Homo sapiens: one gene and its partner. The protein of the gene in region 1 purifies or fractionates together with the protein of each later gene. This does not show direct contact. Each region holds a gene or a part of one and is shown on either strand. Other genes may lie near its edges.

Region 1 (5,759 bases):
TAAATCAGTGAATTTAATTTTATTCCCTTTCTTTCTTGCCAACACTCAACTCTTCTGCCTCTCTGCACCAGCTCTACAAATCAAGTGACATCCAAAGTGGGACCTCTTCTTGCCCATTTGGCAGCCTCTGTCACCACTTTGCCAAGCAGCCAGCATTAGGAGGATTTTTTTTTTTCCTAGCAACCCTAGGGATTGGGTGGTGTGTACTCACAGTACTCGCTGAATGGCTGGCCGCTGTTTAACCCTGCGGGTGCCTCCTCAACACCCCTCCCCCACCTCCCAACCCTTTAGAGTTTATGGCTCCATCAGCTGGCCTGCTGTCACGAATAATTGTCTTGGCAAGAGGTGAAACCACTTGATGGTGAATTTGTTTGTCTGTCTGTTAAAGTGTTCCGCAGCACCTTGGAGGTGCCAGGATGAAACATGCAAATGCCTGATCCAGAGTTAGGTAGGCAGCAAGAGTGACAGAGAGGCAATCATCAAGAATGGCAAATTAAGAAAGAAAGAAAGAGAGAGAGAGAAAGAAAGAAAGAAAGAAAGAAAGAAAGAAAGAAAGAAAGAAAGAAAGAAAAGAAAAGAAAAGAAAAGAAAAGAAAGAAAGAAAGAAAAAACCATCTGTGCCAGTTGCAAGCTGTATGACCTTGGATAAACCATGATGTCTCTTGGCCTCAGTTTAGTCACGTGCAAAATTAAGGGGGTTGATTTTCTAATGTCTCTTCTAACTCCTAAGACAGCATGTGATGTCTAGGACATTTCAGATTTGTGTTCCTTCCAATTAAATGATACATCTCAGAGATGAATGACCAGGGCAGAGCTCAGATGAATACAAAATGGAATGATTCATGCCCCTGTTCATATGACTTTTCCTGAAAAGTACCACCAGTCTTTGGTGACTTTGATTCCATTGGTTGGCCTCTTCAGCTTAGATGCTAAGGACCAATCCAGTTACTTGTCCAGTCTATCTACCCTGGCTCTGGTAATCCACCCTCATTCCTATCAAAGTAAGTGCCACTACATATAATGCCTACTGATTTTGACTTCCTTAGAGGCAGAAACGATGGGAATTCAAACAGTGGAGCTGGAGACTCACATTTGACTCTCCCTACCATCTCCCTGGGCATCTTTGTCAAGAAGGAAGGCTTGCCCACACTCACTTCCCGCAGGCTTTCTCAGCCATCTTGGAGGACTTTGTTTAAACAGATGACCAACTGACCCTCCCCAGGGCAGACCCTCTACAGACCAGTAGGCACAAGGTGTGTGTGTGGGGAGGTGGGGGGAGAGCTCATTGTAAGGACTCCTATCTATAAATGATTATGAATAGAAATAATGAGGCAAAGGCTTCTCGTCATACTCAGAGGAAAAAGTGGCACAACTTAGTGCAGTCTCAAAGATTAATTAGGATGTGTGTATGGAGACGGGTAGGCTTCATTATGGCTTAAACTATCACGTCCCTACACATTCACACTCTCTTGGAGTGGGGTGCACTGCAGGGCCCAGTAATCACCATGAACAGCACAAGTCAGGGTAAGCCCTCCCCATGTCAGACAGTACAATCGTTCTTTAATCCACTCTGTACCCCATATGTATCTGTGGAGCCTGATGAAGCCCCGGAGGGATCTCAGTCAAGTCTCCCTGCACACAGACATACCTTTTTGCCACACTGGATCTCACACCACCGGGACTTGGATGGCTTCCCAAACTAGGTGGGTTTGGAAAGCATTTCCCCTCTCCACCTCAAAAAAGGGCTGGCTGACTGCAGAATTCCAGTACCCGCAAGAGGGGGAAAAAACCCCAAAAATCTTAGCCAAGCCCCAAATCATTGCCTTCCTGTGTCTTCTCTCAAGTTGCTTTTCTAAAGCAAAGGTCCAAACGTTGATTTCTCTACAGATTCCTACGTATCTCTTACACGTAGACAGTTTTAAAGGGGAAAAGAATATATCCCCAAAAGGCAAGGGGGAGAGCACAGAACATTTCAGTTTCCCACTTGGAAATATCTTGTCGTGGATGATGCTACCCCTACCTCCACCTCCCTCCCCCCTCCTTTTTTTTTTTTTTTTTTTTTTTGAAATATGGACAAAAAAGCTGAAAGTGTTTTCCGTTTCATCAAAAAACATATATTACTTTAGTGGTTCGGTAAAATGTTGGTTTTATGCCCACCCCTTTTCAATCTGCCCATGTCTGAGGTGCTCGGGGAAGACGCACAATCGTGAGCAGCTTACGACACTCAGTGAGCAGTAGGTGCCTGTGCAAGCTCGCGCCGCACACTGCCTGGTGGAGGGAAGGAGCCCGGGCGCCGCTCGCCGCTCCCCGCGCCGCCGTCCGCACCTCCCCACCGCCCGCCGCCCGCCGCCCGCCGCCCGCAAAGCATGAGTGAGCCCGCTCTCTGCAGCTGCCCGGGGCGCGAATGGCAGGCTGTTTCCGCGGAGTAAAAGGTGGCGCCGGTCAGTGGTCGTTTCCAATGACGGACATTAACCAGACTGTCAGATCCTGGGGAGTCGCGAGCCCCGAGTTTGGAGTTTTTTCCCCCCACAACGTCACAGTCCGAACTGCAGAGGGAAAGGAAGGCGGCAGGAAGGCGAAGCTCGGGCTCCGGCACGTAGTTGGGAAACTTGCGGGTCCTAGAAGTCGCCTCCCCGCCTTGCCGGCCGCCCTTGCAGCCCCGAGCCGAGCAGCAAAGTGAGACATTGTGCGCCTGCCAGATCCGCCGGCCGCGGACCGGGGCTGCCTCGGAAACACAGAGGGGTCTTCTCTCGCCCTGCATATAATTAGCCTGCACACAAAGGGAGCAGCTGAATGGAGGTTGTCACTCTCTGGAAAAGGGTGGGTAAGACACTTTTTAATTAAATTCTTTCCCGAAGATTTTTTTTTTCCTCCCTTTTCTTTGCTGCAGCATCTAACATGGACCAAATCACCATCTCTTTGATCTTTCCGTGGCTGTGAACTTTCTATGCTGCCCAGCTTTCTGCATGCTTAGAGGTGAACGTGTGGTTTTTGGGGAGGGGGGTCCTTCTTTATTTCTATGTATTTATTTGATTTTTTGCCCTTTTCTCCCCCTCCCCCGCTTCCCCTCCCTCGGAATAAAATATGATGTAGATTTCTGACCGAGCGCTTCCAATGGACATTCTCCAGTCTCTCTGGAAAGATTCTCGCTAATGGATTTCCTGCTGCTCGGTCTCTGTCTATACTGGCTGCTGAGGAGGCCCTCGGGGGTGGTCTTGTGTCTGCTGGGGGCCTGCTTTCAGATGCTGCCCGCCGCCCCCAGCGGGTGCCCGCAGCTGTGCCGGTGCGAGGGGCGGCTGCTGTACTGCGAGGCGCTCAACCTCACCGAGGCGCCCCACAACCTGTCCGGCCTGCTGGGCTTGTCCCTGCGCTACAACAGCCTCTCGGAGCTGCGCGCCGGCCAGTTCACGGGGTTAATGCAGCTCACGTGGCTCTATCTGGATCACAATCACATCTGCTCCGTGCAGGGGGACGCCTTTCAGAAACTGCGCCGAGTTAAGGAACTCACGCTGAGTTCCAACCAGATCACCCAACTGCCCAACACCACCTTCCGGCCCATGCCCAACCTGCGCAGCGTGGACCTCTCGTACAACAAGCTGCAGGCGCTCGCGCCCGACCTCTTCCACGGGCTGCGGAAGCTCACCACGCTGCATATGCGGGCCAACGCCATCCAGTTTGTGCCCGTGCGCATCTTCCAGGACTGCCGCAGCCTCAAGTTTCTCGACATCGGATACAATCAGCTCAAGAGTCTGGCGCGCAACTCTTTCGCCGGCTTGTTTAAGCTCACCGAGCTGCACCTCGAGCACAACGACTTGGTCAAGGTGAACTTCGCCCACTTCCCGCGCCTCATCTCCCTGCACTCGCTCTGCCTGCGGAGGAACAAGGTGGCCATTGTGGTCAGCTCGCTGGACTGGGTTTGGAACCTGGAGAAAATGGACTTGTCGGGCAACGAGATCGAGTACATGGAGCCCCATGTGTTCGAGACCGTGCCGCACCTGCAGTCCCTGCAGCTGGACTCCAACCGCCTCACCTACATCGAGCCCCGGATCCTCAACTCTTGGAAGTCCCTGACAAGCATCACCCTGGCCGGGAACCTGTGGGATTGCGGGCGCAACGTGTGTGCCCTAGCCTCGTGGCTCAACAACTTCCAGGGGCGCTACGATGGCAACTTGCAGTGCGCCAGCCCGGAGTACGCACAGGGCGAGGACGTCCTGGACGCCGTGTACGCCTTCCACCTGTGCGAGGATGGGGCCGAGCCCACCAGCGGCCACCTGCTCTCGGCCGTCACCAACCGCAGTGATCTGGGGCCCCCTGCCAGCTCGGCCACCACGCTCGCGGACGGCGGGGAGGGGCAGCACGACGGCACATTCGAGCCTGCCACCGTGGCTCTTCCAGGCGGCGAGCACGCCGAGAACGCCGTGCAGATCCACAAGGTGGTCACGGGCACCATGGCCCTCATCTTCTCCTTCCTCATCGTGGTCCTGGTGCTCTACGTGTCCTGGAAGTGTTTCCCAGCCAGCCTCAGGCAGCTCAGACAGTGCTTTGTCACGCAGCGCAGGAAGCAAAAGCAGAAACAGACCATGCATCAGATGGCTGCCATGTCTGCCCAGGAATACTACGTTGATTACAAACCGAACCACATTGAGGGAGCCCTGGTGATCATCAACGAGTATGGCTCGTGTACCTGCCACCAGCAGCCCGCGAGGGAATGCGAGGTGTGATTGTCCCAGTGGCTCTCAACCCATGCGCTACCAAATACGCCTGGGCAGCCGGGACGGGCCGGCGGGCACCAGGCTGGGGTCTCCTTGTCTGTGCTCTGATATGCTCCTTGACTGAAACTTTAAGGGGATCTCTCCCAGAGACTTGACATTTTAGCTTTATTGTGTCTTAAAAACAAAAGCGAATTAAAACACAACAAAAAACCCCACCCCACAACCTTCAGGACAGTCTATCTTAAATTTCATATGAGAACTCCTTCCTCCCTTTGAAGATCTGTCCATATTCAGGAATCTGAGAGTGTAAAAAAGGTACCAATCATTGATTTTTTTTTTTTTTGTAAACTAAAATGTTTAAAATAAAATAGCATTTACAGTTTTTACAGACTGGTGTAACCTAAATGAATTGTTACCTGTGTTACAAGAAAAGCAACAGTTAAAATTTCCTTGGTGGGTGGGGAGGGAGTTGTCCAGGGGCCAGAAGGAAAATCCAGGAGCAACGTAGTCAGATTCAATTTGAAATTTTAAAGAAGGGCAAAGAAAGCTTATCAGATTAATGATTTATGTTAATTTACTCCACATGTGTAAGGACTAGAAAAAGAAAAACTGCAAGACCCTTTATATTACTGGGGCAGGGACAGTGCAATCTAACCACCTTCAGGCAACTGAGAGGTGGACTGAGGACTGGGCACCCTTACTCAGCCTTTAAAGCAGAGAGCATTGCAAATGGTTTTTAAAAAGCAATGCCAGACAGTTTCTCCTAGGAACACGAAACATTTTTGCACTTAATGTAACCATCTTTCAAATCACCTCAAAATCTCATCCCCAAATGCCACCTGTTCTTAATTCTCCTGAGTCTTTGATTCACCAGACTTAGTAGCATTTGTGCCCTTCTTGTACCCCCTGTTAAAGGGAGCCCCTCAGCTCACTGCTCTCTTTGGTCTGGCTGAGGGGAAGGAGGCAGAATCCCGATGTTTAGGGCTGAAAGCTGTGCTTCTGGAGCACATTGCTAAGACTGCAGCAAGCTTAGGCTCCCAAACAGTG
Region 2 (3,500 bases), on another chromosome or scaffold:
AGACTCCGTCTCAAAAAAAAAAAAAGAAAAAAAAGAAACATGAAGGAGAGAATAAAGACTTTGGATATAAGCACCATCTATATATAAATATAAATAAATATAAAAATATTTTTTAGCCGGGCGCGATGGCTCATGCCTGTAATCCCAACACTTTGGGAGGCCTGAGGCAGGCGGATCACGAGGTCAGGAGATCGAGACCATCCTGGCTAACACGGTGAAACCACGTCTCTACTAAAAGTACAAAAAATTAGCCAGGCGTGGTGGCGGGCGCCTGTAGTCCCAGCTACTTGGGAGTCTGAGGCAGGAAAATGGCGTGAACCCGGGAGGAGGAGCTTGCAGTGAGCCGAGATCGCGCCACTGCACTCCAGCCTGGGCGACTGAGCGAGACTCCGTCTCAAAAAAAAAAAAAAAAAAAGAAAAATTTTTTTACATAGATTATATATAGATGAGCAGCATCTCTCTCTCTATATATATATGTGTGTATATATATGTGTGTGTATATATATATATATGTTCCATATACCCAGGATTCAACCAACCTTGGATCTAAAATATTCAGGAAAAAAAAATTGCACCTGCGCAGACCATTTACAGACTATTTTCCCCGTTTTTCCCTAAATAATACAGTATAATGACTATTTACATAGCATTTACATTGTATTAGGTATTATAAGTAATCTCGAGATGATTTAAAGCAAGCTTGTCCACCCTGCTGCCCACGGGCTGCACGTGGCCCAGGATGGCTTCGAATTTGGCCCAACACAAATTCATAAACTTTGTTAAAACATTATGAGATTTTTTTTTTTTTTTTGCGATTTTTTTTCTTTTAGCTCATCAGCTATCTTTAGTGGGGTTTTTTGGTTTGTTGGTTTTGAGACGGTGTCTTGCTCTGTTGCCCAGGCTGGAGTGCAGTGATACAAACTCGGCTCACTGCAACCTCTGCCTCCAGAGTTCAAGTGATTCTCCTGCCTCAGCCTCCCAAGTAGCTGAGATTAAAGGTGCCTGCCACACGCCTGGCTAATTTTTGTATTTTTAGTAGAGACGGGGTTTCACCATGTTGGCCAGGCTGGTCTTGAACTCCTGACCTCAGTGATCCAACCGCCTTGGCCTCTCAAAGTGCTGGGATTACAGGTGTGTGCCACTATGCCCAGCTATAACTGTTAGTGTATTTTATGTGTGGTCCAAGACAATTCTTCCAATGTGGCCCAGGGAAGCCAAAAGATTGGACACCCCTGATTTAAAGTATACTGAAGGGGCTGGGTGTGGTGGCCCACAACTGTAATCCCAGAACTTTGAGAGGCCTAGGTGTGAAGATCGCTTGAGCCCAGGAGTTCAAGACCAGCCTGGGCAACATAGTGAAACCCTGTCTCTACAAAAAAAAAAAAAAAAAAAAAAAAAAAAAAAATTTTTAATTAGCCAGGCATGGTAGCATGTGTCTATAGTCCTGGCTACTCTGGAGGCTGAGGCAGGAGGATTGCTTGAGCCTAGATGTTTGAGGTTGCAGTGAGCTATGATAGCGTCACTACACTCCAGCCTAGGCTACAGTGCAAGACCCCGTCTCTAAAATAAATTAAAGGCCAAGTGCGGTGGCTCACGCCTGCAATCCCAGCATTTTGGGAGGCCAAGGCAGAAGGATCGCTTGATAGTTTCAGCCCAGGAGTTGGAGACCAGCCTGGGCAACATAGTGAGACCCCCGTCTCTAAAAAAAGTAAGAGTAAAATGGGCAAAAGATCTGAATAAAAACTTCTCCAAAGAAGATATACAAATGGCCAATAGGCACATAAAAAGCTGTTCAACGTCAAGTCATTAGAGAAATGCAAAGCAAAACCACAATGACATACTACACTTCACACCCACAAAGATGGCTAGAATTACAAAGGGTTAGAGAGAATGTAGAGAGACTGGAATTCACATACACTGTCAGTGGAAATGTAAAATGGTGCCGCTGCTTTGGAAAACAGTCTAGCAAAGAAACAAACAAACACACAGTGCTTAAAAAAATTAAAAATAGAGGCTGGCCATGGTGGCTCACATCTGTAATCCCAGCACTTTGGGAAGCTGAGGTGGATGGATCACTTGAGGTCAGGAGTTCAAGACCAGCCTGACCAATATGGTGAAACCGTGTTTCTACTAAAAATACAAAAATTAGCTGGGCGTGGCAGCGTGTGCCTGTAATCCCAGCTACTCAGGAGGCTGAGACAGGAGAACTGCTTGAACCTAGGAGGCAGAGGTTGCAGTGAGCTGAGATCGCGCCACTGCACTCCAGCCTGGGCGACATAGCGAGACTCCCTCTTAAAAAAAAAAAAAATTGAATTGGCTTATAACCCAGCAATTCAACTCCTAGGTATATACCCAAGAGAAATGAAAACATATGTCCAAGCACTTTGGGAGGCCAAGGTGGGAGGATCACTTGAGCCCAGGAGTTTAAGACCAGCCTGGGAAACATAGTGAGACCCCACCTTTAAAAAAATAAATAAAATATATGTCTACACAGAAGCCCTTACATAAGGCCGGGTGCAGTGGCTCATGCCTGTAATTCCAGCACTTTAGGAGGGTGAGGCAGGCGGATCACCTCAGGTCAGGAGTTCAAGACCATCCTGGCCAACATGGCGAAACCCTGTCTCTACTACAAATACAAAAATTAGGTGGGCATGGCCAGGTGCAGTGGCTTATGCCTGCCTCAGCTTCCCGTGTAGCTGGGACTACAGGCATGCGCCACCATGCCTGGCTAATTTTTTTTGTTTGTTTTTTGTAGAGACTGGGTTTTGCCATGATGCCCAGGCTGGTCTCGAACTCCTGGACTCAAGAGATCCTCCCGCCGCGGCCTTCCAAAGTGCTGGGATTACAGGCGTGAGCCACTGTGCCCAGCCTAAAGTATATACTTTAAATGGGTAAATTGTATAGTACATGAATTATAGCTCAATAAAACCATTACACCCCCCCAAAAAATATTGTTTCACTTGAGGCCCACTGACTTCCTTTTTTATTTCTTAGAGATCAACCTATTTCTTCCCACCACACAACATTTGCACAAGCTCTTCCTTCTGCCTAGAATGACCTTTCCTCCCACCTGCACCCAGTTTGTTCCTCCCCCTCCTTCCTTCTTAGGTCATGCCCTTAGAGGTGCCACCCTGTCTAAGCCAGACTTTGTAGTGCCAAGATCATTTCCTTTGTGACACTAAGCACTTATGATTTTACAAGAATTTGTGTAATCCTTTGAGTCATGTCTCTCAGAATACGGTGGGCTGCCCAAGGGCAGGGACCACTAAGGGTTTTCCCTGCCCACTTTTTTTTTTTTTTTTTTTTTGAGACAGGGTCTCACTCTGTTGCACAGGCTGGAGTGCAGGGGTGCGATCTCAGCTCACTGCAACCTGTCTCCTGGGTTCAAGTGATTCTCCTGCCTCAGGCTCCCGAGTAGCTGGGACTAGAGGCGCCCGCCATCGTGCCTGACTAATTTTTGAATTTTTAGTAGAAATGGGGTTTCACCATGTTGGCCAGGA

What was found. Proteins that work in one complex are often made in the same cells at the same time.
Region 2: the proteins of LRRTM1 (region 1) and PNPLA6 purify together in Homo sapiens (affinity purification with mass spectrometry; 2 studies listed by BioGRID and IntAct, with this or other methods). This does not show direct contact.

What each region holds. Positions count from the first base shown.
Region 1 is NC_000002.12:80,301,213-80,306,971, reverse strand, and holds LRRTM1 (leucine-rich repeat transmembrane neuronal protein 1 precursor), read left to right. Parts: upstream 1-2,219; 5' UTR 2,220-2,820; exon of another isoform or gene 2,821-2,976; intron 2,977-3,093; 5' UTR 3,094-3,152; coding exon 3,153-4,721; 3' UTR 4,722-5,094; downstream 5,095-5,759. UniProt on the Homo sapiens protein: Exhibits strong synaptogenic activity, restricted to excitatory presynaptic differentiation, acting at both pre- and postsynaptic level.
Region 2 is NC_000019.10:7,545,717-7,549,216, reverse strand, and holds part of PNPLA6 (patatin-like phospholipase domain-containing protein 6), read right to left. Parts: intron 1-3,500. UniProt on the Homo sapiens protein: Phospholipase B that deacylates intracellular phosphatidylcholine (PtdCho), generating glycerophosphocholine (GroPtdCho). This deacylation occurs at both sn-2 and sn-1 positions of PtdCho.